4 separate regions of the Homo sapiens genome follow, and all the other regions are linked to region 4. The links come from fine-mapping of genetic effects on gene expression. A gene starts in region 4. Each other region holds a variant in brackets. All regions are shown on one strand. Distances are between the middles of the regions.

Region 1 (8,112 bases), 210 kb before region 4:
GGAGGACTATTCAAGACTTTACCCTTCACTTCCTCCGCCCTTATTATTGGCAGCCTCACACTTACAGGTGTGCCTTTCCTCACAGGCTTTTATTCTAAAGACCTCATTATCGAAATCGCAAACATGTCATATTCCAACACCTGAGCCCTTTCTATTACTCTTATTGTAACCTCCCTAACAGCTGTCTGTAGTACCTGAATTATTTTCTTTGCTCTGATAGGACAACCTCACTTCACAACTCTGATTCATATTAACGAAAATAACCCCTTCCTAATTAACTCAATTAAGCATCTAATAATTGGCAGCATCTTAGCTGGATTCCTCATTACCAATAGTATTACTCCTACTTCATCCCCCCAAAAAACTATGCCACTTCACCTAAAACTCACAGCCCTAGGTGTGACTGCCTTAGGCCTCTTACTAGCAATGGAGCTAAATTTTATAACTAACAACCTTAAGCTAAATTATCCATTACAGACATTTAACTTCTCCAATATATTAGGTTTTTACTAGCCACAATCCACCATACAACCCCCCACCTCAAGTCTATTTACAAGCCAAAATCTGGCCTCACTTCTACTAGACCTAATTTGATTAGAAAAGTCCACACCAAAAACCATTTCACAAACCCAAATATCAGCCACCATTACTGTATCTACTCAAAAAGGCCTAATTAAACTTTACTTTCTCTCCTTTTTTATTTTACTCCTTCTAACTCTAAATTATCTAATCTATTACCCCGAATAATCTCATTTGCAACACAAATACTAACAAACAATGTTCAACCAGCAACTACCAGCAATCAACATCCATAACTTTACAAAGCAGCCACACTGACAGAATCCTCATGCAATAACCCCACCCCCTCACCCTCAAAAATTATTCAACTCCACATACTATTAAAATTAATTGTGATGACCATCCCATCATGCTCAACTATTCACTGAATCAACACCAACCCTATTAATAACCCTAATAATAAAGCCCCTCAAATGTCAATAGTTGACCCTCATGTTTCAGGGTATTCCTCAGTAGCCATTGCCGCAGTATAATAAAAAACAACCATTATACCACCCAAATAAATTTAAAACACTATTAACCCCACAAAAGCCCCATCAAAGTTCAACACAATACCACAACCCACAGCACCACTAATAATCATCCCTAGATCTCCATAAATAGATGGTTTCGAAGAAAAACCTACAAATCCTATAAGAAAAAGAATACTTAATACGAATAAAATATATGCCATTATTCCTACACGGACTATAATCATAACTAATGGTATAAAAAAATCATTGTATTTCAACTGTAAGAATGCTAATGACCAAAATACGCAAAACACACCCGCTAATAAAAATTATTAACCATTAATTCATTGATCTTCCCACAGCATCCAGCATTTCTACATGATGAAACTTTGGCTCACTTATTGGTGCCTGCTTAATTCTCCAAATCATCAGAGAATGATTTCTGGCCGTACACTACACATCGGATACCTTAACTGCCTTCTCTTCAGTCACCAATATCAGCCGAGATGTAAATTATGACTGAATAATCTGCTATTTTCATGCTAACGGCGCTTCAATATTTTTCATCTGCCTCTTCCTACATGTTGGCCGAGGTTTATATTATGGGTCATTTATATTTCTAAAAACCTGAAATATTGGCATTATCCTCCTACTCACAACCACAGCAACAGCATTTATAGGTTACATACTCCCATGAGGCCAAATATCATTCTGAGGTGCTACAATAATTACAAATCTACTATCAGCAATCCCATATATGGAAACTGACCTTGTATAATGAATCTGAGGTGGATTCTCAGTTGACAAAGCCACGCTTACACAACTTTTAGCCTTCCGTTTTATCTTTCCCTTCATCATTGCAGCTCTAACAACTGTTTTCCTTTTATTCTTACGTGAAACAGGATATAATAACCTTCAGGGATCTCATCAGACCCTGACAAAATCACTTTCCAACCTTACTACGTAATCAAATATATTCTAGGCCTAACTCTCCCCCTCCTCCTCCTAATAGTCCTAGTACTATTTTCACCTGATCTCCTGAGCCACCTGGATAATTACACTTTAGCCAACACCCTCAATACCCCACCCCACATTAAACCAGAGTGATACTTTTCCATCCCTAACAAACTAGGAGGTATGCTCGCCCTTACATCCTCCATTCTCATTCTAGCAGTTATTCCTATACTTCACACATCTAAACAACAAAACATAGTATTCTGTCCATTAAGTCGATGCCTATTCTGAATCTTAGTGCTGACCTGCTCACACTCACATGAATCGGAGGGCAGTGAGTCAACTACCCTTTTATTATCATCAGACAGACAGCATCCATTATGTACTTCTTTACCGTCCTCACCCTTATACTAATCATTGCCCTAATTGAAAACAAGCTACTTAAATGAAACTGCCCTTGTAATATAATTCAATACTCTGGTCTTGTAAACCAGAAATGGAGAATTTCCTCCCCAGTACAACTCAGGAAAAAAAGTATACCCACTTCACCATCAACACCCAAAGCTGAAATTCTGATTAAACTATTCCTTGCACTTTTTTCAGCACACACTTTAACTACCATGCCAGTATTAATGAACTAGCACTAACACATTAGTGCTCTTATGTACTTCGTGCATTACTGCTAGCCCCCATGAATAATATGTTGTACTATAATTGCTTAACTGTACATAGTACATTAATACATCAAGGTACATTAAAAATACAATCCACATACATATAAGCATATAAGCATGTATTAATGACTCTCCAACTATTGCACATTCACTATCATTAATCGTACAACAAAATCCAGTCAATACGAATATCGACCCATACTAAAAATCCTTAATATTACATAGTACATAAAATTTTCATCGAACATAGCACATTTCAGTCAAAAAAGTCCTTGTCAACATGAATATCCCCTCCCAAATTTTGGTCTCTTAATCTACCAACCTCCGAGAAATCATCATCCCACTCGGGAGTACTACCTTCCTCGCTCCGGGCCCATAACACTTGGGGGTGACTATACTGAAACTATACCTGGCATCTGGTTCTTACCTCAGGGCCATAAAACTAAGATCGACCACACGTTCCTCTTAAATAAGACATCTCAATGGACTAGTGACTATCACCCTATTAGCCAGTCAGGGGAGCACTGTCATGCATTTGGTATTTTTAACTTTGGGGGATGCTATTACCATCGCGAAAGGCCTGGTCCCCTCTGAATCACTGTAGACAAACTCGGATTTGATTTCTGCCAAACCAGTTGTAGAAACTGAGCTTATATTTAATATTCTGACCTGGCATAACAACCATAAGATGTTAATTAATTCATGCTTAAAGGACATAATGAGTAACCAATAGACAAGTATGCACGATCACGTATGCATGATCATGTAGGCACGATCATGTACGCCTATTTTCAAGAACTATTTTCAACTTAATCCACAAACTCCCCCTCCCCCACCCCTGACTTTACCATCAACCTAGGTAAGTGTACCCTTGCCAAACCCCAAAAACAAGAGACTAAAACCCAGTTAGAGTCCAAAAGTCATATTTTAATCATGAATACCCCAACAGGTGCCCTTTGATTGATGTGTTTCCCAAAAATCTTAAAAATCTTTCTACTAAATTAAGCCTCTACTTATATAACAAATATAATAACTAAATTTTCACCCTTGTACTAATATAATACCTTGAACATAACCCTCTGAAAGTGCTACCCATAAACAACAGCCTAAAACAATTACCCCTAATGTAAAACCCCTCTCAATCAAACTTCTGCCAATTCAAGTTAAACCACTTAAATTACCATAATTGTAAATGACTATTTCTTCCCCTTATATTTTAATTTTATACTCAAACATTTATGCAGTTAATGTAGCTTAATTATTCCAAGCAAGACACTGAAAATGTCTAGATGGGTCTGCACGACCCCATAAACATAAAGGTTTGGTCCTGGTCTTTCTGTTAACTCTTAGTAAGATTACACATGCAAGCATCCCCATCCCAGTGAAGATGCCCTCTAGATCACCTGAATCAAAAGGAGCAAGTATCAAGCACACACAAATGCACCTCAAAATACTTTGTTCAATCACACCCCCACAGGAAACAGCAGTGATAAATCTTTAGCAATAAGCAAAAGTTTAAAAGCTCTACTAATACTTAGGGTTGGTCAATTTCGTGCTAGCCACTGTGGTTATATGATTAACCCAAGCTAATAGATCTTGGCATAAAGAGTGTTTAAGATCTACCCTCAATAAAGATAAACTCCATCTAAGTTGTAAAAAAACTCCAGCTGAAATAAAATAAACTACAAAAGTGGCTTTAATATCCTGAAAACACAATAACTAAGACCCAAACTGGGATTAGATACCCAACTATGCTTAGCCCTAAACTATAATAGTTAAATTAACAAAACAATTTACCAGAATACTACAAGCAACAGGTTAAAACTCAAAGGACTTGGCAGTGCTTTATATCCATCTAGAGGAG[C/G]CTGTTCTATAATTGATAAACCCCGATGCACCTCACCACCTCTTGCCCCCAGCCTATATGCCACCATCTTCAGCAAACCCTAGAAAGGTTGCAAAGTAAGCACAAGTATACACATAAAAATGTTAGGTCAAGGTGTAGCCTATGAGGCTATATTTTCTTTACCCAGAAAATCTCATGATAGCCTTTATGAAATCTAAGGGCTCAAAGAGGATTTAGCAGTAAACCAAGAGCTGAGTGCTTGGTTGAATAGGGTCATGAAGCACACACACGCCACCCATAACCATCCTCAAATATTATTCTAGAAACAAATACTACTAAAGCTCTCTACCCATATATAGACGACATAAGTTGTAACATGGTAAGCATACTGGAAAGTGTGCTTGGAAAAATCAAAGTGTGTAACTTAACCCAAAGCATCTGGCTTACACCACAAGATTTCATCACAACTTGATCTCTTTGAGCCAATTCTAGACCCAAACTTCTCTAAAAATATTATCAAATTATCTTAATTAAATCACTTACCTAAACAGAAGTATAGGTGATAGATATTTTTACCTTGTGCAATAGACATAGTACCATAAGGGAAAGATGAAAAAACTAAGACAAGCATAAAAAAGCAAAGACCAACCCTTATACCTTCTGCATAATGTATTAACTAGAAATAACTTTACATAGATAACCAAAGCCAAGTCTCCCCAAACCAGACAAGCTACTCAAGAACAGCTGAAAGAGCACACCCAACTATGTGGCAAAATAGGGGGAAGATTCATGAGTAGGGGTGACAAGCCTACCAAGCCTGGTGATAGCTGGTTTTCCAAGACAGAATCTTAGTTCAACTTTAAACTTTCCCACAGAATTACATAATCTCCCTGTAAGTTTAACTGTTAATCTAAAGAGGGACAGGTCGTTAGACTCTAGGAAACAACCTTCCTGCAGAGGGTAAAAAAATATTACCATCATAGTGAGAGGTGACAGTGTGCTGGCAGCCCTCACAGCCCTCACTGGCTCTGGGCGCCTCCTCTGCCTGGGCTCCCACTTTGGCGGCACTTGAGGAGCCCTTCAGCCTGCCGCTGCACTGTGGGAGCCCCTTTCTGGGCTGGCCAAGGCCAGAGCTGGCTCCCTCAACTTACAGGGAGGTGTGGAGGGAGAGGCGCCAGCGGGAACCGGGGCTGCGTGCAGCACTTGCGGGTCAGCTGGAGTTCCAGGTGGGCATGGGCTTGGTGGGTCCCACACTGCCTCTCACCCCCGCACCACTCCCCCCACACCCCCCGAGTGGGCTCCTGTGCAGCTGGAGCCTCCCCTACAAGTGCCACCCTGTGCTCCACCGCACCCAGTCCCATCGACCACCCAAGGGCTGAGGAGTGCGGGCCCAAGGCACGGGACTGGCAGGCAGCTCCACCTGTGACCCCAGTGCAGGATCCACTGGGTGAAGCCAGCTGGGCTCCTGACTGGTGGGGACTTGGAGAACCTTTATGTCTAGCTAGGGGATTGTAAATACACCAATCGGCACTCTGTATCTAGCTCAAGATTTGTAAACACACCAATCAGCACCCTGTGTCTAGCTCAGGGTTTGTGAATGCACCAATCGAAGCTCTGTATCTAGCTAATCTAGTGGGGACGTGGAGAACCTTTGTGTCTAGCTCAGGGATTGTAAAGGCACCAATCAGTGCCCCGTCAAAACAGACCACTCGGCTCTCTGTAAAATGGACCAATCAGCAGGATGTGGGTGGGGCCAGATAAGAGAATAAAAGCAGGCTGCCCCAGCCAGCAGTGGCAACCCGCTGGGGTCCCCTTCCACACTGTGGAAGGTTTGTTCTTTTGCTCTTTGCAATAAATCTTGCTGTTGCTCACTCTTTGGGTCCACACTGCCTTTATGAGCTGTAACACTCACCACGAAGGTCTGCAGCTTCACTCCTGAGCCAGTGAGACCAGGAACCCACCAGAAGGAAGAAACTCTGAACACATCTGAATATCAGAAGGAACAAACTCCGGACACACTGCCTTTAAGAACTGTAACACTCACCGTGAAAGTCCGCGGCTTCATTCTTGAAGTCAGTGAGACCAAGAACGCACCAATTCCAGACGCAATAGTTGACCCCAAAGCAGCCACCAATTAAGAAAGCGTTCAAGCTCAACATCTGACTATCCTAAATTCTAATCACACTACTGAACTCCTTACATCACATTGGACTAATCTATTATTTAATAGAAGCAATAATGTTAATATAAGTAACATGAAGATATTGCCCATTACATAAGCTTACATCAGACTGGAAATATCCACCGACAGTTACAGGCTAATATTAGCAAATGATTTCCTAATTAGTTCCCCGGTTCAGGGGGAGAGAAAGAGGAAATGGTCAGAAACCAACCATTGTAGGCAATATAATGGCCTCCAGAATGTCCATGCCCTAATCCCTAGAATCTATAAATATGTTACCTTACATGGCAAAAGGGACTTTGCAGGTGTGACTAGGGTTAAGAACCTTGAGATTGGGAAATATCATTATCCCAATCTCAATTATCGCTGTGTGTCTATCGAGTCATATGGCTCCTTAAAAGCTGAGAACCTTTCCCAACTGTGATGAGAGACTCCAGAGCAATAATGAGACAGATGCAATGTTGCTGGCTGGAGAAAGGGGCCATGAGCCAAGAAATGTGGGCAGCCTCTAGAAGCTGGAAGAGGTAAGGAAAAGGATTCCTCTCTGGATCTTCCAGAAACTATTTCAGCCCTGTCAACCCCCCGATATTAGCCCAGTGAAGCCCATGTTAGACATCCAACGTGCAGAACTGTAAGATAATAAGTGTGTGTTGTTCTAAGCCACTAAATTTATAGTAATTTGTTATAGCAGCAGCAGTAAATTAATTCCCCAACCTAGGATAGAAGTTGAAGAAAACAAAGCTTAATTGAGGAGGCGGTGAATTATAGTAACAGAAGCAGATGGTAACTTGAGGAAGGAACGATAATTTGGGGAAGGAACAGAAGTTAATTCTCATGTAGGATCCATCCCAGATGTTGGGGAACAATAGTGGGTACTATCAGATAATTTTATTTTTTCCTCTTTGGCCTCTTGCTCATGATAGATCTGAGAAGACACTTCCACATTGCTTATGCTGGCTGGATATTAAAATATGTTGCAAGTGTCTCATTCTCCAATTAGTAGAAAGGGTTATAACCAGATACAACAAGCAAGTATGTAACCAAAGCTGCTAAATAATGAGCAGAAGCAAAATGAGGCTTTGGAACGTGGTTAAGCCAGACTACTCATGTTTATCAAGTAGGACTAGGTATTTAAGGGCCATGAAACAGGAGATCATTTATAAAAAATTATTCTCATTTTGGTTAATCATGAAATCTAAAAAGTATGTTTAGCTATTGAGGAGGAAGTAATGTTTTGGTTAAAGTAGGCAAATTACTCCTATGAGCATGTCAGGTAGGGATTGCTTCTAGTAGAAAATATTTTTTGTTTGCATTTTTAACATTAAGTTAATTAATAATTTATTATTGTAGATTGGATGAAAGTTTTGTGTGGAGTGAGATTACTCTATTTCCCCTAATTTCCTGTCTATACATTCTTTTCAAAGCTTT
Region 2 (8,112 bases), 690 kb after region 4:
TCAACTGGACACTCAACAATCAACAAATAACAAAATAAATGAGAAACTATATTTAAAAATACTGTGCCAGATGATCATATGCACCCTGTATAAAACAAACAAGGACAAGGAATAATGAGTATCAGGGATTGGAGGGATTAAGGAGCATACATTTACTACTATATATTGTTTATAGTGTCCTAAGATTGTCCTTGAATAAAATGAAATTATCAGCCAAGAGATCAAGTAAAATAGAACTACTCCCTAACTAAAATGTCTGCATCCTAAGTTGATAACATTCAGTCCACACACTCATTAAAATATACTACTAGGCTTCACTTTTAATTTGGACCTGTTTCTGAACCCACAATTTACAAAATGGTGCAAGACCAAAAAAGAACCATATTATGCAAAGTCAATCCCCTCAAGAAAGCTTATCACATTAAGTTGGTCCCTAAAATTCTGCACAAATTCAGTGTTTAAAGCCAATGCATAATCCCTGTATAATATTATATAAGAGAGTAAACTTTGTATAAAATTGTTTATGTCAGCCTAGCAAATAATAGTTAAAAAAAAAAGGCAGGGGTTAAAAAAAAAAAAACTCTAATAATATTGTAAATCTTTCTCCCAAAATAAATGGAATGTAGGAAGGGGGCAGGGATAGCATTAGGATATATACCTAATGTAAATGATGAGTTAATGGGTGCAGCACACCAACATGGCACATGTATACATATATAGCAAAACTGCACGTTGTGCACATGTACCCTAGAACTTAAAGTATAATAAAAATATATATAAATAAAAATAAATGCTAATGCCATTAAAAATATTTTAAAAAGATGGTTGACATCACTTATAATTTTAAAAATGCAAACTAAAACTATACCAAGATACCATCTTTTACCAATACAATTGGCAAAAATCCAAAAGCTTAACCAAGAACTATTTTGTTGAGTCTTGGGTAAAAAATAAAAATAAAAATAAAATAAAATAAAATAAATGGAATGTAGTCATCACTTAATCATTTTTAGCCCATGAAATATTATAAACAATATAAAATAGCCAGCTATAAACAATCTGTAATCCAATAACAATTTTATTTTATTATATTGATAAGGCAAATGGTAATTTATACTTCTATTTTGCTAGAACTTTTTGAATGAACTACGTAGATCATGTACAATGGACATAAACTCCCTTTATGTGTGCCAAACCAAAAATATAAAAATCAAATGGGAATGTGATTTTTACTGGGATACCTTGAGATCTGAAAGCTCTCTGTAGCTTGTCAGTACAGCAACCCTGTTCTGAGTTTTGATTAACTGTCTTTTTACTTGAATTAGATATTAGTTTCTTGATGTTTTTATTTTAAGAGAAAATTACTATTGAAATGTTCAAGATAGCTTTAGAGTTAACATTAAGATTCAAGGAAAAATGTTTTAAAAACCCATGTTCTTAATTTCTCTGAGATATATACTTTTTCCTTTTTCATTTTTACATTAATGTTTTATGGGAGGAAAAGTAATTACTCTCCTATATCAATTAAATGGCAACTGTTAAAATATCTTACAATACTAACATTTTCTGAACTCTTGTTCTCCCAACCAATAAAAAAGACATGACCTAAAAGAATTCCAAAATGAAAATGGAACATTAATTAAAACACAAATGAATATATTTGGTGTTATTTCAGTTTTAAGAATATACTTACCTTTACTGTAAGTCTCTCAGATTCTTATACTATGTCTTTTTCTCCAAGATGTTTCCAGAAGACTAGTTCTACCAGGAGTAGGAGGGTAGTAGGGAGTTTGAAAACAGCCACTATACTAGGTTATACCCGTTCTTCAATTTTAACAAATGTAACACTCTACCATGTACCTATTATTTCCTCAAGTTTTGTATTTTAAAATTAAAAAAAAATATGTTAACTGTTTCCAGATCCTTGAGGGTACCATTCATTAGTAGGTGAAAAATAAGTCAGCTCTCCTATAACATTGCAAAAATAAGAAACAGTGCACATGGTTGTAATTTGCATTGCTTGGGTGGATAGTGTACTTGCCATAATTCAACAATATAGAACTTTTTACAAATATCTAAGTGTCTATTTTCTAGTCAAAGTAATAAAAAAATGACTAAGCCCCTGGACCTAATAGTATAACATGAAGATAATCAACGAAAAGAGAACTAAAATGCTGCTTCAAGATGAATTGCTAGAAATGGCTTGGAATTTCAAGGCTGCCATTGTCATTATCAGTGAGATATCTGTTTATAGTAACCTTAAAGCTATCCAAGGAAATGCAACTATATAAGCAGAAGAGCATATAATAAGAAAAAATTGCCAGGCATAGGAAAAAAATCTCTTTCATAAAGAAGATTTTATTTGTTACTGATAATGATCGTATTTGTTTCCCACAGCATGATCCACATATGAAAGTAAGTTAAAAGATAATGAATTGTAAGGAAAAGAAAGACATTTGTACCTACTTATGCTGCCAATAGCTTTCCTTGGGTGGAGAGTGGTACCTCTATTTACGCTTAAGATTCAAACAAACTGCATCACAAATTGTCATAAAATACATATGCTCAGGATATAATGTTTTGAAAAGCTGCATTTCTCAAATCACTGCTACCAAATGCTGTATCAGTCATGATTCAGACCAGGAAACAGAAAGCACTCTTGGAATTCAAGCAGGGAGAGATTTACTGATTAAGGGTTTCAAAAATCAGAGGAGCTGGAGGAGTTGGAATCAGGGGAGTTACAACCGGACTACTAATTTCAAGGTCATACTGCCATAGCTGTGATGTAGAGGTCAGGAAGCTCTACTGCTGCTGGCTTAGATATCACTGCCACAGGCTTTCAAACCCCTAGAGCTGATGTCTTGCATTGGCATGCAGAGTGTAAGCATGCCAACCCTCTCTTCTGTCTGACATTGCTTTGCTGCAGTCACCAACAGGAATAAGGCCACTGCTTTGCTTCTGACTCGAAAGTTTGCATACAACTGTTAGCTAGAAGGGAATATGGGCAAAGTAAAAGGAAAGTGTAATAGAGAGATTGAGAGAGCTAGGCCAAGTAGTGTTCCTTAAACTTTTACCCCTTGCCCCAAAATGTTAAAGAAAACAACTCTGAATCTAAAAGATTTTTTAAAAATAACTTACTTTGTAAATTGCACTGATATGCACTAATTTGATATTAAAATCTTTCTGAGCTGATTGTGAGGCTGTGTTTTATCTTCATTTATCCTACTACATGTGAATATTTATATGATTCTCTGCATAAATATCAAGTTATTTGAATACAAGGTGACCTGACCCTCTGAGGGTGTTATGAACTATACAGTAGAAATTACACCAAGTATCAGAATGTCAAATATCAGATTGTCAAATCAGACTTACATGCACTGGAAATCTTAACCAATATCATCTTACCTGACACCAATCTTTACTAATAACTTCAATAATAGAAGGAATGCAAGGCAAAGGAAAATCAGAGAGTTGTCTGGGAGCTCCAATGTAGCTACTTACTTCTTTTCTTACCATTTTATATATTCTGGACCTAGGTTGTCATATCCTTTAAACATGTGTGCAGTTATACATTTAAATTATAAAACATGTCTAATGTAAAATAAGCTAAATCGCTTATGTGATATCGTCCAGGGAACTTTACCAATAAATCTATATATTCTAGATTTATGTACCATAATCAATCGTAGACAACCAGGTTCATCATAGTGAAAGTATTGCATAAATGATTATTCTAACACAAACAAATGCCATTAGCGTGTTACCAAAGACATTCATAATTCATATGTTTACAAGAAGATTTGACAGTTTTTTGTCTTGATGATTTCCCCAAATCCTCCATCCTTAATGATAGAGGGAATAAACTGTAGGCCAGTTCCACGTTCATTTTCTTCTAAAGGTATTTGCATTATAGTACCTTTTTAAAATCTGAAACACTCTGAATTCTGAAGTTCATCAGGCCCCAGAGGTGTAGGAAAGGCAGTTTTGGACCTATATCTACCACAGTGCATTTATTTGCTTTTCAATGACTACATGCATTCTTCCACACATATTTC[A/T]TCTTCTACACAGCAATGACATTCTTCCATCTAACCTAAGACATTTATTCTTTGTATAAATAAGGATCTTCTCATAATCTTAAAATGGGAGGCTTAAAGTTGAATTACTCATTGTATGCATCTTTGGGTTTATCCTCTAGGAACTCAAGTGTTGCTACCAGATTTTAAAATTGGACTCTGCCTCTTACTTTTTAGGAACTCTTTTCATTCTGGTTGCTTTATCTCTGGGTTGGCTTAGATTAGTGGCTCCCAATTGGGGTACGCTCTCGTGAAAGTAACACTGTGCGTCTATGAGCTACTTCAACATATTAAGAAGTCTACTGTGGTATTTCCTAAACATGGTTAATATATTGATAACTTAAGATGTTTCCTTAAAAAATTCAACTTTTTTGGCTGTACTTTGGTCTTACTAAGTCAGAATACCTTAGCAAGTACTAGAAATTTATATGTTTATTCAACTCCATGGGTAATCCTCATACACAGCATAATTTAAGGACTATTAGTCTAGTGGAATCATGTGTACGTTTGTGTGTGTGTATATATATATATATATATGCCTAAATTTACTAAAATGGTAATTATGTTTGTTTTAATTTGGAATTATAGTGAATTATGTGTGCTAACCTCATATTAAAAGATAAAATTATAACAAATTTAGTTATGGATCGAATTGGATTTTATTTGCAATTTATGAATCAAGACAGCTACATCCTACAAAACAGAATGTGAACTCTCACTGGGAAATCACAGAAGAGTGGATTTTGTAAGGTGAGAAAGAAACAGAACAAAGGAAAATAGTTGATTGGTTAACACTAGGTTACTTGAGTTAGTTTTTGGTAAGGGTTAAAACAGAGGGATCTTCCTTATGATGCTGAGTCATGTAGACTGGAATCTGCTGTTCTCAGGAAAAACTGTGCTGTTTGGGATCTATTTGCTTCCTAAAAGTTGCAGTTTGCTTATGTGACATTTAGCATGAGTGACTCCATTTTGGTTTGATCTGGTCTGATGGGGTCTGGTGCAAGATCGCAGTGCAAGAGCTCAGTCCAAGACAATGGCCTCCTATAATTGTGTTTAACATCTATTTTATTTTATTTTCAATTTCAATTTTTATTGAGCACATAGATGGCCAGATTACCTAGATGCTAAGAATACAGAGATGTAGAAAACACAGCTTTGCTCAAAAAGCTTGTGTGGATAAACACGCAAGTAAACCAAAAATTATTAAGTGTCTTCAGGACTTTAGCAGACATATGTCCCAGGTGATACAGGAGTATAGAAGAGGGATTAAAACCCATCTATTTGGCAGTTCAATATACCTTTGAGTAATAATACAAAAATAAGAAAATAAATTTGAAAATTGGAGCATTTTTAGTCAACCAAACAATCATTCAGTAACAGGAACATTTAATTAAAAAAGAAAAAATAATTCAGTGTTAAAACGTTGTTTTGTTGTTGTTTTCTGTTTGTTTGTTTGTTTGTTTTGTTTTGTTTTATTTTGAGATGGAGTCTCGCTCTGTCACCCAGGCTGGAGTACAATGGCATGATCTCGGCTCACTGCAACATCCACCTCCTACGTTCAAGCAATTCTCCTGCCTCAGCCTCCCGAGTAGCTGGGATTACAGGTGCCCACCACCATGCCAGGCTAATTTTTGTGTTTTTAGTAGAGACGGGGTTTCACGCTGTTGGCCAGGCAGGGTCTTGTACTCCTGACCTCAGGTGATCTGCCCACCTTGGCCTCCCAAAGTGCTGGGATTATAGGCATGAGCCATAGTGCCCAGCCTAAAACATGTTTTTATATTCACTTGACTATATGATGATTATAAATTCTTGCCAAGAGCTAATAGTCAATAATTTCATGATTTTACATTTTTCTTGTAGAAACACTTAATCATTCTCTCCCACAGGTAATTGATTTGATGTATGATAAATTGGTTAATTGGTTGTTTGTTTTATGGTTGTGTAATCCTGGGTAGGGTAACACAACTAATTTTACCTTTCCTAGTTTATATTTGATCACAGAAGGAGCTCAGTTTTATCTACTTAGGTAATAATTAGAGACAGCTTTTAATGTACTTTTTGCCTCTTCTAACTGCAGACTTTTCTTTTTAAACTAACAGTTTTTGAGTTACATTAAATAGAAACCCAGAGACACTCAATAGAATTCAGTGAATTTTTTTAAACTTTGTTGTTGGGTTGATTATTACTTGGTAGATGGCTTTCAGAAACATTTTCTGGAATTTATATTAAGCATACATGAAATTATAATTTAAGAGTTTTTGTTTGTTTTGTTTTGTTTTTTACTTTATGGATTGATTTTTGTCATATACAAAATAAAACTTTTCAGGGAAATTTGAAAAGAAAACTTATCACCAACTAATGAGGTGGGTTACAGAATCATTTAAAAATGTTTATTACATGTTTACTGCAGTGGTATTCACAAATGCCAAAGTATAGAATCGACCTAAGTGTCCAACAATGAGTCACGGGTAAATAAAAGGTGGTCTAGATACACAATGGAATATTATTCAGCTATAAAAAAGAATTAAATCCTGTCACTTGCAACAACATGGATGAATCTGGAGAATATAATGTTAAGTGAAATAAGCCAGGCACAGAAAAACAAATACCACATGGTATCATTCATATGTGAAATCTTAAAAAAAAAGAGGGGGGAACGTTAATATCATAGAAGCAGAGAATAAAACAGTGCTTATCAGAGACTGGGTAAGAGGAGGGAAGGGAAAATGGAGAGAGATTGATCAACAAGTACAAAGTCACAATAAGATAGGAAGAATAAGTTATTGTGTTCTATTGCACAGTAGGGTGACAATGCTTAACAGTAAGGTACTGTGTATTTCAAAATAGCTAGAAGAGAGGCTTTTGAATGTTCTCACCACAAAGAAAGGATGATAGCATGAGGTGATGAACATGCTAAATACCCTGATTTTAATATTTTACAACATATATGTGTATCAAAATATCAAATTGTGCCCCATAAATATGTAATTACAATGTGTCAATAAAAAGTAAAAAAATTCTAATTTAGGAAATATATATATTATTTATATATGTCAATTTAGGATATACATCTATATTAATTTAGAATATATATGTAATATCTGTAGATATAAATGTATATATCAGGATAGATACAGTTCCTGTCACAAGTCAAGAATTGTGCTAGGTATTGTGGACAAGGCAAAACAAAATCATATCCTACATAGTTCAGTCTTATTGGAAAAAAGAGGCAATTATAGTATGGTTTAATTAATGCCTATATGGGGACATTACAAGTTTCATTGCAACACATAAGAGAGATACTTACAGAAATAAATCCAGAGAAATCAAGCATCACCAGCCTAATTTTATTTTGGGGGGCAAAGGAGCCATGTTTCTTTTCACCGTCTCTCTTGGGATGTCTTACTCAAAGGTCTGGAGTGAAGAGTGGTTGCCTAGACTTTTCCTTCTGACCCCTTACGTACCATGAGTCCCTAGGTACAACTGTTGTTTTCCACTGAATGGAGCTGAGCAGACACAGCATCATAAACAGAGGAAATGACTAATCATTTACTGTTTCCTCTAACTGCTGGGAGCCCCTGCTGGTCTCTGGCACTCTTGCTTGTTTTGAAGTTATAATGTAAGTTTAGTCTCCCTGGAGACCAGCCTGGCCAACATGGTGAAACCCTGTCTCTACTAAAAATACAAAAATTAGCCGAGTGTGGTGGCAGGCACCTGTAATCCCAGCGACTTGGGAGATTGAGGCATGAGAATCGCTTGAACCTGGGAGGCGGAGGTTGCAGTGAGCCGAGACTATGCCACTGCACTCCAGCCTGGGCAACAATAGCGAAACTCTGTCTCAAAAAAAAAATAATAAGTCTGTAATTTTATAGCTATAAAGGGCATTAAAGATCATCAATCACTCCCACCTCATTACAGATAAGAAAACTGAAGTGCTTAAATACCCAGTGACCTTGCACAAACTCCGGGGTGAGTTAGTGGCAGCACCTAAACAAACAGGAAATACCTGGACTCCATGTCTAGGGTTTTCCTTATG
Region 3 (8,112 bases), 160 kb before region 4:
GGGGCGTAGGGAATGTTGCTCTTGAAGCTTTCTCTTGATAACTAGAAACCAATTTTTTTGGTATGACAAATAGCTTCCATCTTAATATACTGTGGAATGTTAACACTCTTTAAATCATAAAATAACTTTTAAATATAAAACTTACTTTCTCCATTACAACCACAATAAGGGCAACTGCATTCTGAGGCACTTTTAAATTCATCTCACAGAGGGTAAAAGTCTATTCTGAGCTTCACATAAAAATATTGAGAGAGAATAATAGGGAAGTAACATAAATATTCTATTTTCTTTTTTGCTTCTCATAAATGTTATGCTTTCAATATTGAGAAAATAATTTTTTTAAATTAGAAAAAATGAAAACTGTGGTTTGAAAAATATTCAGCTTAGAAGATAATACTTTGCAGAGTTTCAACTACTTGTATTTTTTTTCTTACTGACAAAATGAACACAAAGCTTGAAAAGCTAGATAAGTTTAAACAGGAAAAATAAGTTTGGTGTGATGTTTTCAATTGTCATATTTTTCTCTTAAATTCTTAAAACTGTCTCTCTAGGAAATTTGAAAGGAAACGTATAGTACATTTCTTTGTTGAGTCTTCTGACTCGCCATGTATTTTAATTGAATGCTCTAACTTTGTATTTTGAAGCCATTTATTTCATTATGAATTCAGAATACTGAAAGGGACTAAATATTGTCTACCTATCGCTACACATAAATATGAACCCTCAAAATATAATATACGTATTGTTTAAATTTAAGTATTTTGGAAAGTGAGGAGACTTCCAAAATAATCTTGTCCAAACATCTTACTTTAAAAAATAAGGCAAATACATCCAAAGGGAGTTGTTGCTTGTGTAAGGTCACACTTCGTGTCCATTGAGGGAGAGAGTACTTGCCACCAGGTTCCTGGCCTCAGGCTTCATCCCTTGATCCACAATATTTTAAGAACTATTGTATAAATGATTCAGATAAAAAAATATAAACAAAAGGACAGTTTGAAACTGATTACAATGTGCTATTTTTTATATCAATCAACCATATACACATGTATTTATTAAAAAAAGCCATATTAATATCTTTTTAAAAAGTCATTGCATTAAAAATCTAAGGTCTTATTTATATGTGATTGATTCTTAAGTATAGAATCTCTCCTCCAGTTCGTATTTGACTGTGTTGAATATTTCTTAAAAGTAGAGACAACAAAGAGGCAGTTTGATTCATGCATTTACTTCTTTCGTTTATTGAAACTTCAACCACCTATCTCCTAAAATGGAATAAACTGGTTTAAAAAGATAAGGTGGCTGAGTGCAGTGGTTCACGTCTGTCATCCCAACTGCTTAGGAGTATAAAAAGTAAAGTAGAGGTTCCTCTTCAAAGACTTTCCTTCCCGTCTAATTAGGAATAAATAGTAACTTCTCTTAGAAGCAAAATTTATTCAAAGACCTGTGCTAACATTCTTAAATATCTGCTAGCTGTAATAAATAAATCAATATACTTTATGTTTTTAGCTCCCACAATTTAGCCTAAATATTTGCCCTGGCATGCTTATACTGGTCCAAGCAGCATTAGGTCACAGCCTGTTCCTCTTCCTTATTTAAAAGTGTTTTTACCTTTCTTAGCATTCCACAAGTTACTTCCTCCTTCCTTTGTTACCCTCTACCTTTACGTCTTTTAAAAAGTTCTAAGTTACTAGCCAATCGGGACAAATACAGAATGGGAGGTCCCATTCCAGCCATTGGAACTGGACACAGCAGTAGGGTGGACACGTCAGGTTATAAATGACCCTGTCTCCTTTGTTCGGTGTACTCTCATGGCAAAACTGCTGGCGAGTGTATCCTCTCTGCAGGAAGTAAAAATGGCCTTACTAAATAAATTAAATTTGCGTTCAAGTGCTATTTCTTTATAGCACTGAAAAACAAACATTTCAAACAGGAGACTGAGGCAGGAGAATCGCTTGAGGCCAGGAGTTCCAGATTAACGTGGACAACATAGCCAGACCTCATCTCTAAAAAAATTTAAAAATAAGCTGAGCACAGTGGCATGCCCTGTAGTCTTAGCTACTCAGGAGGACCACTTGCAGCCAGTAGTTCAAGATCAGCCTGGGCAACATGGCAAAATCCTGTCTCTATAAAAAAATACAAAAATTAGTCGGGCATGGTGGTGCACTCTTGTAGTCCCAGCTGCTGTGGAGGCTGAGGTGGGAAGATCAACTGAGTCCAGGAGGCAGAGGTTGCAGTGAGCTGAGATCCCATCACTGCACTCTAGGAGTGACAGAAGGGGACCCTGTCTCAAAAATAAAGAAATAAAATAAATAAATAATAATAATCAGCCAAGTGTGGTGGTGCAGTCCTGCAGTCCCAGTTACCTGGAAGGTGGGGGCAGGAGGATCACTTGAACCCCAGGAGTTTGAGGCCATGCTAAGCCATGATCGTACTATTGCATTCCAGTCTGAACAACAGAGCAAGACCTCATCTCTAAATATAAATAAATAAAACTTAAAGGAAGGTAAGTATTAATAGAAGCATAGTTAATTCACTGATGTTTACTCACATGAGAAACCCATAAATGTCTAGAAAATAAGACATTTTAACAGAGAAAGGGAAGCAATTCAATGCATTAGTTTGTAATTCAAAAATTTTGCAATTTACAGTAGGAAAGAATTTTGAAAAAACACTTTTACCAACATAAGGCTTGATTAACTAAAGATAATTTTGGTTAGAACATAGTCTCAGCAGTGAAATGAGCAGAAAGAGGCTCAAGGGAAATATGTAAGTGATTAGAAGATCCAGAGAAATGCATATCATTCTTCTTGTGGCTTTTAGGGTTTTAAGTTTAGATATTGACTGGGTAACATAGTAAGACTTTATCTGTACAAAAAACTACAAAAATTAGCCTGGTGTAGCGGTGCACACCTGTAGTCCCAGCTACTCAGGAGGCTGAGGTTTAAGTTTAGATATTAAAAAGAAAAAATAAATCAGTTCTCAGATTATAACTGAAAATAAAAACTTTGTCTAGGTGACTCTAATACAGTGTGGTAGGAAAACAGTGGCTGGAAGAATAGGAATGTGCTTCCTTTCCCACAAGAGAAGGGTGAATACTACTAGAAAAGCCAGTCCACTGCAGAAAGTATGCCAAAGTGAAGGCGTCTAAAAGGAAATTTCCAGGTACGTCTGAGAAGTTATTTGCAAAGATATGGGCACCAGAGGAAATTACTTTAGGTACAAGCTCTTCCTAAGGTATGTCCTGGTGCTTCTGATATTGTCACACATCTCGCTGATACAAACTTGCAAGGAATGCAGAAACTTTATTTTGTTTTAAAATGTTTAAACAAAATATTTATCTGAATGGATACTATAAAAACAACTCAAATATCATTATCTGATTTACTAAGCAGATTTTTACTCAAAAAACTGTCAAAAATATATATCACTGGCTGAAAAATCTCGTTACTGTGTCTATTTTCCAAGTTAAAGAAAAATTCTGCCATGAAGTGAAAACAACACAAGCTCCATCTAGTGGTTAAACTGAGTAGGTGCGCTTTAAATTGAGACAGAATGAAATGAGGTGATGATCACTATCCAGTGGTGAAATTTAATAAAAACAGAGGAACTTGATGCTGCCATCCAGTGGCCAGAATGAGAAACTGCTGTAAGTGTTCACAGAATTATGCAATTTTAGATTAGAAGGAATTTTGAATCTTCATCCTGTCACTCATTTGATGCTGAAATCCTCTATAAGTTTTTGCCAAAATATCATAAACTACATGATTTTAGAAGGAGACATGAAAAAATTTCAAATCCTTGTTTGAATAGTTCTATGTAAAACTTCTATTAGAAATATATATGCACATTTACTTAAAATATATTTTACTTAAATATAGGTATACAAAATATACAATTACTTTATATATTTACATTATTTATGTAAATATTTATACATTTACATTATATATGAATTTTATACTATATAACCTATATATTTTTACTTGGCCACATTTAGTCTAACACTAAATAATAGTATCTAAGGAATCACAATTTCATTTTCTTGTTATGTATATTTATCATTTCAGGGTGAGACTAAATTTACCTAAATAAAAATATAAATTAATTTAAAGGAAAATATTGAGTCAGTGATAGTGGAGACTATAAATGGACATAATGGCATAGAAGTCCCAATTTAAAAAAATCATAAAACCACCCTACCTTATGAGACAACCTTATTTAATCTTTGGTTTACTCTGATTATTCTTTTTTCCTTCAAGTAAGTCTTTCCTAGCTTTGTCACATGGTACTTGGTCAGTTCATTCACCTACAATGAACTAGAAAAAGTACAGTCCCTAGTAATCACATCAGGCACACAATATTTTCTCAATAAATTTATGTTGAATGAGCGAATTTATGAAGAACTAAATATTGCATGCTTATTTGGTATAAAGAGAGGCCAAGAGAAGGTTAAATAACTTATTCATGTTTAAACAGATTCTAAGTGGAGTAAAAAACGTATCTCCCCAAAAGAGTTCCATTTAATATTTACTATGTGCCAACAATGTGCCAAGCATTGTGCTGGGGGCTGGTGACATGAATGAAGGGAGACCCTCACCACATCATCACTGTCCTAAAGGGGAATGCTGCCTTCTGTCCCTTGTTCATGCACAGTGCACATGTATCATCTTGCTGTGTAGCAGAGAAAGTACTATGAATTGTCACAAACAGATCAAGAAAAAACGCAAAGATGTGGGAAGGTTGAAACACACATCACTTACCTCTAAACTAGCATGCAAGGAACAGACCAACAAAATGGGAGGATTTGAAATTCGGAATCCACAGACCCCAGGGATTAACTGCAGTTCTGAGAAATTA[A/G]TATCATGTCATTATCATAGAAGGTAACTTTAAAAGTGTCCATAAAGATACTAGAGTACTGGAGAGTAAAAGAGCAAGACTTAAACTTTTCTTCCTAAGTAGGATTTCTGAGATATTTAAGATAAGCTCCATGGAACTAAAATATCGACGTTATTTCCCGTTTACCAGCAGTTCCCACCTCCCTTGTCCCCAACTTCTTAGCAGAACACCAGAAATCTTAGACCCAAGGTAAAAATGACCTCTTCTGGAAGTTTTTCTGGATCTCATTCTCTGCCTTCCTATTCCCAAGCCAGGATTCCTTATTCTGCTCAACATTTGCTATTCTATTATGAAACCATGTCAATGAGAGAGAGCATCAGCTTTTAGTGGCATGTAATTGTAATGTCTCCCAAAGGCAGAAATATGAATGAAATGACCTATGAAGCTGACTTTTAGCTCTAGGATTGTTAGGTCAAGTGGTTTCTCTTACAGAACACACACAGACACACACACACACACACACACACACACACAATAGAGGGAGCTTTAAAAAAAAGATCTGCCTAAGTATATAAAAAAGGTAAATTAATAACAGATGCTCTACTAATTAGAATTAAGCAGATTGAACTGTAGCAAGTTAAATTCAATAGGGTTAAGATAGCTAGTCAGAGATAAGTTAACACTATGACTGACTAAAAGAATGTTAAAACTTGATGACTTTTTTATAGTTATCAAATCCAGGATTAAGCAAACTATGGTGATATGGTTTGGCTCTGAGTCCCCACCCAAATCTCATCTTGAATTGTAATCCCCATATGTCGAGGGTGGGACCTGATGGGAGGTGAATGGATCATGGGGGCAGTTTCCTGCATGCCGTTCTCATGATAGTGAAGGAGTTCTCACAAGATCTGATGGTTTTAAAAACAGCAGTTTTTTTTGTTTTGTTTTTTTTTTTTGTTTTTGTTTTTGAGATGGAGTCTCGCTCTGTTGCCCAGGCTGGAATGCAGTGGCGCGATCTTGGCTCACTGAAACCTCCGCCTCACGGGTTCACGCCATTCTCCTGCCTCAGCTTTCCGAGTAGCTGGGACTACGGGTGCCTGTCACCACGCCCAGCTAATTTTTTTGTATTTTTAGTAGAGATGGGGTTTCACAGTGTTAGCCAGGGTGGTCTCGATCTCCTGACCTCGTGATCCGCCCGCCTTGGCCTCCCAAAGTGCTGGGATTACAGGCGTGAGCCACCACGCCCGGCCAAAAACAGCAGTTTTTATGCACTCTCTCTCTTTCTCTCTCTCTCTCACCTCCCATCACCTCATATGTGCCTTGCTTTCCCTTTGCCTTCTGACATGATTGTAAGTTTCCTGAGACTTCCCCAGCCATGTGAAACTGTGAGTCAATTAAAATTCTTTCCTTTTCAAATTACTGAGTCTCAGGTGGTATCTTTATAGCAGTGTGAAAACAGACTAATATATGGCCATATGGCCTGTGGGCCAAATTTGACCCACTAGTTTTGTTTTTGTTTTTGAGACAGAGTATCACTCTGTTACCCAGGCCTGAGTGCAGTGGCTCAATCATGGCTCACTGCAGCCTTGACCTCCCCGGGCTCAGGTGATCTTCCCGCCTCAGGCTCCCAAGTAGCTGGGACTACAGATGCATACCACCACTCCTGGCTAATTTCTGTAGTTTTTATAGAGACAAGGTCTCACTATGTCACCCAGGCTGGTCTCAAACTCCTGTGATCAATTGATCCATCTGCCTTGCCTCCCAAAGTGCTGGGATTACAGGCGTGAGTCTTCGTGCCAGGCCCTGCTTTTTAAAATACAGTTTTATGAAAACATAGCCACAATCTTTCACTTATGTATCACCTATGGCTGCTTTACCACCACAATGACGGAATTGAGTATTTGCCACAGAGACTGTATAGCCTAGAAAGCTTAAAATATTTCCTATCTGGCCTTTCACAGAAAAAGTTTGCTACCCCTGATCAAATTCAATTCCTTTATTTCCAAATAAGAAAACCCATCTCAAAGAATTTAAATAACTGGTATAATAACAGATCTAATTATTTTAGCAGCCAAGGTAAAATACAGGTATCCTGACTTGACTGGAATATCCCATTTTGCAATTTGGTTGCTACAAATCTGCATACCAATGGTCCCTGACTTAACAATGGTTTGACTTAAAATTGTTCAATTTTACAGTGATACAAAAGCAGTACATCTTAAGTAGAAGCCATACTTCGACTACCCATACGCCCATTGTGTTTTCCACTTTTAGTATAGTATTCAATAAATCATATAATATATTCAATGCTTTATTATAAAATAGGATTTGTGTTAGATGGTTTTGCCCAACTCTAGGCTATGTAAGTGTTTTGAATGTGTTTTAAGGTAGGCTAGGCTAAGCTATGATGTTCTATAGATTAGGTGTATTAAATGCATTTTTTACTTATGATATTTTCAGCTTATGATGGGCTTATCAGGAAATAACCCCATTGTAAGTCAAAGAGCACCTATATATATAAAATATTATCTCAGGCCAGCTTGGACAACATAGCAAGACCTCATCTCCACTAAATAATAATAATAATAATCAGCATCATCATCATCATCCAGTCATGGTGGTGCACACCTCTAGTCCCAGCTACTTAGGAAGCTAAGGCGAGAAGATTGCTTGAGCCAGGAATATCAAGGCTGAACTGAGCCTGATCGCACCACTGTACTCCGGCCTAGGTGACAGAACAAGACCTTGTTTCAAAAACAAAAAAATAAAGTCAATAAAAAATGAAAACAAATTTAAAACAGTATCTCAGGGTTTAAAGCAATCTGAAGGATCAAGTTTATGTTGAACTCTCAAAGCACGTATGATCTTTCTGCATCCCATGTGATTGAGAAATGAGGTCATGCAGGAAAAGGAAGCTCTGCATGGTAGAGTTTCACTTCTATCTGCTGGGGTTAACTGCTCACAGGAATTGCTACACTCTTTGGTACATGGCAAAAGCCACAAAAGGAAAATAGGAAAAAAGAGGAGTGAAAATGAGTATTTATTAAGGTACTGCTGTGTCCTACTTGGCTTATTGTTTTGAGCTTGACTAACCCTAAAACCAAATCTTTAAATAGATTTTATTATTCACATTAGATAAGTGGGAAAGAAAAAACAATGACACAAGATGATATAACTTGTGCAGGATCAAAAAACTATTAAGCAGCAAAGTGTGATTAACACCCAGGTCTTTCTGGATCTGACTCCAAGCCCCAAATTTCCTCCTGTCCTCCATGC
Region 4 (8,112 bases):
TCTACAAAAAAAAAAAAAAAAAAAGAAAAAAGAAAAGAAAAGCCAGGTGTGCTGGCACTGGCATGCACCTGTGGTCCTAGCTACCGAGGAGGATGGGGTAGGAGACCAGCAGTCTGAGGTTGCAGTGAGCTAATTGTGCCACTGCACTCCATCCTGGGCAACAGAGCATGACTGTTTAAAAAAAAATTATATTTAGGATATATTAAGTTTCAAATAAGTATTGAACATGCAGGTAGAAATGTCAAGCTGGTCATTGGATATTTGAGTGTATAACTTAGGGGAATATTGGATCACAAGATATGTTTAATATTTCTCAATTCAGACTGTACTTAATGTCTAGAACTTCTGGGGGCCCAAACTCACACAGAACTAAAGCTCTAGAATTCAATTCAATCTCCATTCTTCTGCCTCCCTTCACCTTTTACCTTAACTAACACACACAGTGTTTGGCAATAAAGAGTTGCATATCTGAGTGTTAGATAATGCCAGTAAAACAGACATTCTTCTTACACTCTCGATTTTCATTCTTGTACTTTTTGGGCTTCTTCTTTTCTCAACTGTCGATGGTCTCCACTGATAAGCCATTCTTTATATTCCTAGACAAAGATACCAAGGTTCACCATTGCATGTTTTTTACTTTGATATCAGTTGTGACTCCTAACTGCTTCAATCCATGGTTCTGTACAAAAGTGTAGGATTTCAACATTGATGGATGGTGCTTTCAATATCTGACCATAAGTATTATTTGTCCTCCACATGAAATTTTCTATTTCTGTGATTTTTCTCATGCCATTTCCTTTGCCTAAAATGTTTTGCTCCCCTTCAACTTGTTTGGATTCTAGCCAACCTTCAAAGACCTAATGCTCCAATGCTTTTTTCAAGAGGCCTGTTAGGATGTCTCAGGCAAAAGTAGCCCGTCTTCCTCTGAACACCAATAACAATTAAGAGCACACTTATGTACTTTACTTACGATAATAATACATTCTGCCAGGTACTATATTTATTTGGACATATGTATGGATAGGAAAGATCAAAAACATTTGCTATGCCTGAAACTTGATTCTAAATGGCTCCCCACACATAGCTTTCTGATGAAGGAAACTGCATTTTGAAGAGAGATCACTGTGTCTCTACCGCTTGGCATTATCAATTGCCTGGTCATAGTTTATTAGACCTCTGTTGGACACTTACCCACTAAAGACAATGTAGTTTCATCAAAGATCTGTGAATTATTTGCTATAAAAGCTCTAACCAAACAGTGATGATGTTTAGCTGAGTACATAATCAAATTCTTTCAGGAATCTGAGCTGTGGGATGTGCTTATTCATTCAGTTAGATACAGGAGCTAGAATTTAAAATAATCATAGATAGAAGCTATGAAATGCTAGGGTCTAGGAGGAATACTGTCATAGAATGACTCATTTTTCAAAGTAAAACAGAACCACTGATTGTTAAAGCATGAAAAGCATGAAGTGATTCCAGCAGCAAGTAAGAGTCACTTAGTTACACAATGGCAAGGGATTGAACAGCTATGTCTCCTGAAAAGGTGACAAGACAAGCCCATCTTGCAAGTCACTGAATCCTTCATGCAACATGCTATGTGCAAGTCTCCAGGGGACCCATCTTCTTGGCTATTCCTAAAATTCCATGAGATGTTTTTCTGCCTTACTATCAGATTAGTCTTACTACAAACATATTACTGATGGTAGCTGGACTGAGTTGCTGTTCTACCCTACTGAACTGAACTCTACCTGGGGGCCTGAATCATGTTTAATTTATCTTTATAGACATCTCATTTAGACAGAGTACCCCTGCCGCCAAAGTGGCAGTTCGAGAGAATAAACAAAATTGGTTGATGAATTATTTGACATAATGACATATTACTAGAAGGGCACCCTCTCTCATTCTGACCATATGAGAAAGACTTAGACAAACATTTCTAATGAAATTCAGAATCAAGAGAGCTTGCCTTATATTTGAGACTTTCTTTGGGAGGTCAGCCCTTTGAGTTGATTGGAGGTGACTTTAAACTCTAAGTGGGGTTACTTAAATAAAGAGATTAGTTTGTTACCAACAGATTCTGAATAAAATTCAACTTTCCTTATTTTAAAAATGATACTCATTAGCGTCATTCTATCTGTATCTTATTTAATGCTTGTAATAATCCTGAGGCATCAGAATCCTTTTCCTCTATATTGAGATGAAAACCTGGCACAGACAGAGTAGAAACCAGTGGACTAAAAGGATAGCAGAGTGCACAGTAGGGTACTTAACCATGCCTGAGATGCTGAGTCCATTGTGCTGGTCTTTGGCAAAGCCCATGAATGGAATGCACAGAGCTCAATTCCTCCTCGAAGCCTTGAACCTCTCACTTTATTTTTCCTTGCCTGTTGCTTCCTGATGTGTGTGTGTACGTGTGTGTATTTCTTCAGCTCATTCCCTTTTTCTTTGGCTTCTTTTTTCAGTCCTACACTTAAGCTGCAAAGGACCACAAGCTACGTATGAATTGATTTACCTTTTTAATCCATCCTTCCCAGTCCAGTTTCAGCCAGGCAAAAGTTAAAGTGGCTGGTTCCGCTCCTGGGCCTGTCACATCTGGGGTACCTTGAGATACCTGATGGGCATAGTCTTCCAAATGACTGCACCCTGCCCTACTCCACCACTTGCACAACTTCGCATGGTCTCAAATATAGTCTTTAGTTCCCAGAATAGCATAGTGCACTCACTCTAAGGATGCAATTTATTCACTCATACTAATTGCTGCTTAATTCTGCATTCACCCCAGCAGCTAAGACAATTAGTGTTCACAAGCCATAATGTTATGCCATGTTTAGTTTGCAAATAAAGTGACATGCTCATATTCTGAAAGGAAGAACTTAAATCCAAACTTTTAAAAACTTCAACTTTTACATATTTTACAAATTTTCAAATGTTACATATTTAGTGTTAATTTTATCAAGACGGGGGACATACATACCATATGGTCTCAGACAAATCACCTAACTGCTCTGTATGTCAATGTTATTTAAAGTTAAATTTTACTTTCTTCAAAGGATTATGGTTAAGCTCAAATGACATTAGGTCCTTTATAAAAAGATAAAAGATAGTTTGTAATATTTTTTTAAATTATCAATACCTTCTGATGGACAGCATCAATGTGCCTTCGATTTAGGTTTGGAAATTGTGCTTTCACAATTTTATTTAGACAGCTACAACTTTAAAGTAAAAAGCTTGTATAATAATTAAAAACTGATTGATTTTAACGAAATCACAGAATTCAGAATCTCCTAGTCACCCACTGATTTAGGGCTAAATAGTTAAATAAATGACTGAGTGTCTGGTAGTTAATCTTTACACAGTTTCACATTCATGCCTGAAATAAGCAAATTGTACATAGGAGTTCAAAGTTTAGAACCTGACTTAAAAATATGTTGAGAAAGCGTGTAGTTTTTCATTAGTAAAGAAAAAAGGAAAAACAATATGCATATTGAGCAAGATTCTTTAAGCATATCATTGAGAAATGGGTAACATTACTCTGCTACGAGTGTATATTTCATATCTAGGATATGAATTACTTGCTGAACACGTTAAGAAAATCAATACATTTGCTTCAGTGTTACTACTAAATAACACCCCACTGGCCTCAAAATAAAAGCAGAAAGGAAAAAAGAAAATCTAGTATATTTTTAAAAAGTGTATCAACTTTCTTTTCTTAGGTTTCATAAAATGAAAGGGGAAGAAACTCTGTTCAAGAGTAGGCATTTTCACTTCTCTAAATAAATATTTAATATGACTACTAGCAGCATAAGACAATTAAAGTTACCAGAAAACAGAGGACTTAAAATCTGTTTAAGAATATCTTTCCCTCGTCTGGAGTTTGACCTAATCTTACCGCTTAAACTCAAATAAGAACAGGACTAACTTTGGTTTGTCAAATGTAACCATATTCAGTGCACTATGTTCATCAGTTCTTTTCTATTACATTAGTAAAGATCTTTTCATTTAACCCATTTCTAAAGGTGGGGCCTTTAGGAAGGTCATACCATTTTTATTTACAAAAAGAATATATATAAAAAAAGAAGAGAGTAGCAGAAAAAAACCTCTAAAACACTATGACAAGGATTCTAGCTGACAGAAGTTTCATTTGGAAAAAACATGGAGTAAACATTAGGGTAGAGAGTTTTTATCAGCGCCTCAAGCTTACCAGCTAGGATCCCAATGGAGTGTTTGGCTCCCAGAATCTCTCCAAGAACCTCTCAAGAATTCCTTGAAAATGTACAGGCCAGATCTTAGGGTGAGAAATTCAAAGAACTGCTCAGACTCCACCCAGTGGAGAATTTATAAATATTTTACTTTACTTCCTCTCCCCTAACCAATCGGTAATCTCCAGCCACTGTCAGAAATTTAAGCAACATGTGCTCCTGCCCACCATTTCAAATGCCAGAGCCTCCAGTGAGGGCTTCTTTCCAGAGGCAACTTTGCTCTTTAAACTCAGGTAAACACACACTTGTCCTTTAACTATATAAATCTCTGACCCCTGAACTGATGAGTTGGTCTTAGAGCTAAATTCCAAATTTTGCCTTTCTTCTTCACTTTGAGCTCTGGATTTTTGAGACAATACCCTCCTTCAAATACACTGAGGATTTTCAGTCTGATGGTTGAATCTATGACATTTAATGGGTAAACTTTTTAGTCAAAAGTTTAAAATAGGCTCTCAATTCCAGAATACACTCTATTGCCTAATATGTGAGTTTTCAAAAACTCCTAGGTAATAAATCTGGACAGTTAACAAGACAATGAAGGAAGAAAGATCTGAAGATTCAAGTGGAAACTAGCCTGGCAAACTTCATTAATGCAAATTATTCATTTAAGTCTGTGAATTGTCTTTTGTTCTAGTCTGACTACCTCTTTAGGCTTATTCCTGAGCTTGGGTCTTTTGATGAATATCCTTGTAGTTATAAAAACTAAGAGCAAAGACTTTCGATATTAGGACTAGGGATGAAGAATGTGCTTGAATAATTGAATGACTTATGCACACCTATGCTTTATTTAGTAACCCACAACAAATCAAGTAAAGTGTCATTTAATCATTTCTATCAAGTGTTCATTGTATAACCCTGAGCAATTCACTTAACCCTTGTGGAGGCTCAGTCTCCTATTTATCAAATGAACTTAATAATACCTTCCTCCCAAGATTACTGAAACGATAAAACCATGCAGGTTGAAGGCCATAGATACCATGACACTCAAGTCAAAAGTGACATATTGTCTTTTTTTTAATCTTAAGTAACCAGACAAAAAGTACTACTCTCCAGTTTCCAAGAGAGGGAGATAAAGTGCATGAAATTGCTTTAATACGAGTAATTGACCAGTGAAAATAAAATATATTTCACTTCATTGATCCTATCCTTACAATAATCCTATAAAGTAAGTAGACTACCAATTGATTAACTTAGAATAGTAAAAGTTTGAATCCATTCAGGAAATTTCAGAAGGTGTACTTTTTTTGCATCTATTCTGTGTATGCCTCATGCTGTAAAAACTTTGGAAGATTACCAGGCTCTAATATATGGGGAGCGAACCAGAGGGCGGATCTGTGTCATTTTTGTGTCACTCTTTTAAAGACTGACTATAGATTTAGAGAGCTAGATATGGACATTAAGGTTTTGTTTTCACAAGATCTTGCTTCTTCTAAAATCTTGTAATAATATGATTAAAAATTTCATCAAAATATTATCTTAAAAACTACTGTTTAACTTGTCACCTTTAAAGAACTTGCTTGGAGGTCTAAGCTATACTTCTATTTCTTATGTTTTATAAATTTCTTTCTTTCTTTAAATTTGTTACATTTGAGGAATAAAAATAAAATCCCAAGCCCCTAGATTAACTGAACGGACACGCTCTTGGCCAAGGGGATCCCAGAGTAAACTTGAAAACTAAGTTTTTGGCCATGACAGGATAGGAAGTGGAACACATACCCGCTCCATCACTAACTATGATTAGGCTTTCTGCCCTATGGCTAAAAAGAAACCAGTCATTTCAAAAGATTACACCAATGACATCAACCATCACCTGGTGTTATCCCTCTCTTTTGTGGTTTGGAACAAAAAGAAAATACTGATCATGGAATGTTTCTGGCTAGTCTATGGAGAATGTGCAGTAAAGGTTTTCATGTCCTCTGCTTCACATTGGGCTGAAAACTGCCCCCTCAGATTGTATTAATGCTGTCATTTTTTGAACACGGATCCCATGGAGAAGCATGAAACTCCATTGTGCATGTGCACATTTCTCCTTTCACAAATATTCATGGCTTCCCCTATAGCTTATTGAATATATATATTCAGCTACCCTGCTCAACATAAATTTCTGTTTCCTTTGCTCCTCCCTCAAAATGTCTGTTTCCAGCTTCTGATTAGAGGCTATACTTTTCAGAGGTCAGAATGATCACCCTGCAGGCTGCAATCCTTTATGTGAAATGAAGCTCTCCTTTCCAAATGTATGAACCTGTCATTCTTCAGTTGACACTTTCATTCATTCAAGAAAAGTATTAAGCATATTCTCTGTACCAAGCACAAAGTGAAATGCCAGGGATGTAATGGGGAGCAAAACTTGTATAATAACATAGGCCGCTAAATACAGAAGGGAATTATGAGAGAACGAGTCATGCGGGGAGGGGTGAAAGCAAGACCCGCTACAGGGCCAGCAGTCAAGGTTAAACAGAGAACACTGTGAGATACCATTCCTTCCTTTTGGAAACAGGAAGAAAAAAAGTGTTGCCAGAATAAGCTGTTGTACAATTCCGAGTTGTCTATTAATTTCCAGGTATGGCATCCTGCTTATAAAATGATATGTTTCCGAGAGGAAAAGACTAATTTTATCCTCCTCAGAGCTCTACCTATGTATGGAGCTAAATAAATATCTACTGAATTGGTTAATTTGTTTTTTTTTAATTAAGATCTAGTTTATTTTCTAAAAATTGATTATTGGAAATATGGGAAAGTTTTGTCCTCTCAAAAGGTAATCTTGAACCATGAACTTTATTCTTATTCTTCAGGGCATTTTCGCCATAGTTAGGCCAGTATCTAGCATTTAGTAGACTAAAATGGGTGCTTGCTGGATCATTAACTAAATTAAATTCAGATCAGCAAACTCTTTATGTAAGAATCCAAGGCTGCACTACCAGGCTGATCATAACACTCTAATGCTGGGTGCTCAGTATGTGAAATGAGTAATGAGATTAAAGACAGAGACAAGTTAGGAAAGAACTAATAAAAAAAACTGCAGTCTCAAACTTGGGTAAACAGAAAATTTCACAATACGCTATTTTTCTTAATTAAATAAAAACGCAGAGCTCACATGTGACTTCTTAGGAGGAAAATTTACTCTGAGTCATTATTGGAACTCTCCTTTCTTCTTTACACAGGGTGTTGGGAAGTTCCCAGATGGGAGGGGCAGATTAGCTTCCTTCTCTCTGCCCTCCTGCCTCTCCTTTCCCCTCACCATATCCCTGGGGCCTTGCACACCCAATCACTCTTTCCAAACTTCCCCTTGGGGATAACCAATATAACATAACAAAAACTTTCTCAAATGCCAGTCATGAGATTTGCCTTAAGCAATTTCTGCCAAGGAACCTACAGCATCTTCTCTATATGGGTAGGGGAAAATATAAAAAACAGAGCACACACAAAATTATCTCTCCTCTCTTCTTCCCTCTCCCCTTATCTGTCCTTCCTTCCCCTCTCCTTCCTTTCCTGCTGCCCCCTCCTCTTTCCCTCTTCTTGCCTTCTCTCCTCTTTCTCTAATGCCCTCCTCTTGCCTTCTCTTCCTCTCTCTCTCTCTCTCCTTTTCTTTTTCCCTTTTTCTCTCTTCCCTCCACTGCACTCTCATTTCCTCACCCATACTCTCCTTTCTTCTCCCTCTCCCTCCTACAACAGGGAAGGCAAAGCAAATTAATATGCTAATAAATCACTAGGCTATGTTTAGACAATCTACTTTTTCCTTCCTGTGAGATACATAGTCTGGTTATTAGAAAAATTTCTCAGTAATGGGCGGGGACTTTCCTACCCTCTCTATATGTTGTATTTTCAGTTTTTCAGAGGAAAATGCAAGGGC

Alleles and levels. Positions count from the first base shown, and alleles are read on the strand shown. Sizes are in standard deviations (SD) of each study's normalised expression. Not every link is listed here.
In carriers of allele A in region 2, the expression in coronary artery of the gene that starts at base 4,277 in region 4 tends to be higher than with T alone (large effect, 0.84 SD a copy in GTEx).

The links. PIP is the estimated chance that this variant, and not a neighbour inherited with it, causes the effect.
Region 1: its variant is fine-mapped to the expression of KYNU in whole blood (TOPMed, PIP above 0.99).
Region 2: its variant is fine-mapped to the expression of KYNU in coronary artery (GTEx, PIP above 0.99).
Region 3: its variant is fine-mapped to the expression of KYNU in whole blood (INTERVAL, PIP above 0.99).

The regions. Positions count from the first base shown.
Region 1 is chr2:143,087,373-143,095,484 of GRCh38, reverse strand. It overlaps the pseudogene MTCYBP11, the pseudogene MTND6P11 and the pseudogene MTND5P24. Among named protein-coding and RNA genes, the nearest start is that of ARHGAP15, 38 kb to the left of the region's middle. The variant C/G (reference allele first, on the strand shown) is at 4,524.
Region 2 is chr2:142,185,651-142,193,762 of GRCh38, reverse strand. No RefSeq gene overlaps it. Among named protein-coding and RNA genes, the nearest start is that of LRP1B, 59 kb to the right of the region's middle. The variant A/T (reference allele first, on the strand shown) is at 4,059.
Region 3 is chr2:143,029,970-143,038,081 of GRCh38, reverse strand. It overlaps KYNU (kynureninase), which reads right to left. Exons shown (of 14, transcript NM_003937.3): 12 at 4,761-4,846. Among named protein-coding and RNA genes, the nearest start is that of ARHGAP15, 95 kb to the left of the region's middle. The variant A/G (reference allele first, on the strand shown) is at 4,858.
Region 4 is chr2:142,873,829-142,881,940 of GRCh38, reverse strand. It overlaps KYNU (kynureninase), which reads right to left and starts at 4,277. Exons shown (of 14, transcript NM_003937.3): 1 at 4,205-4,277.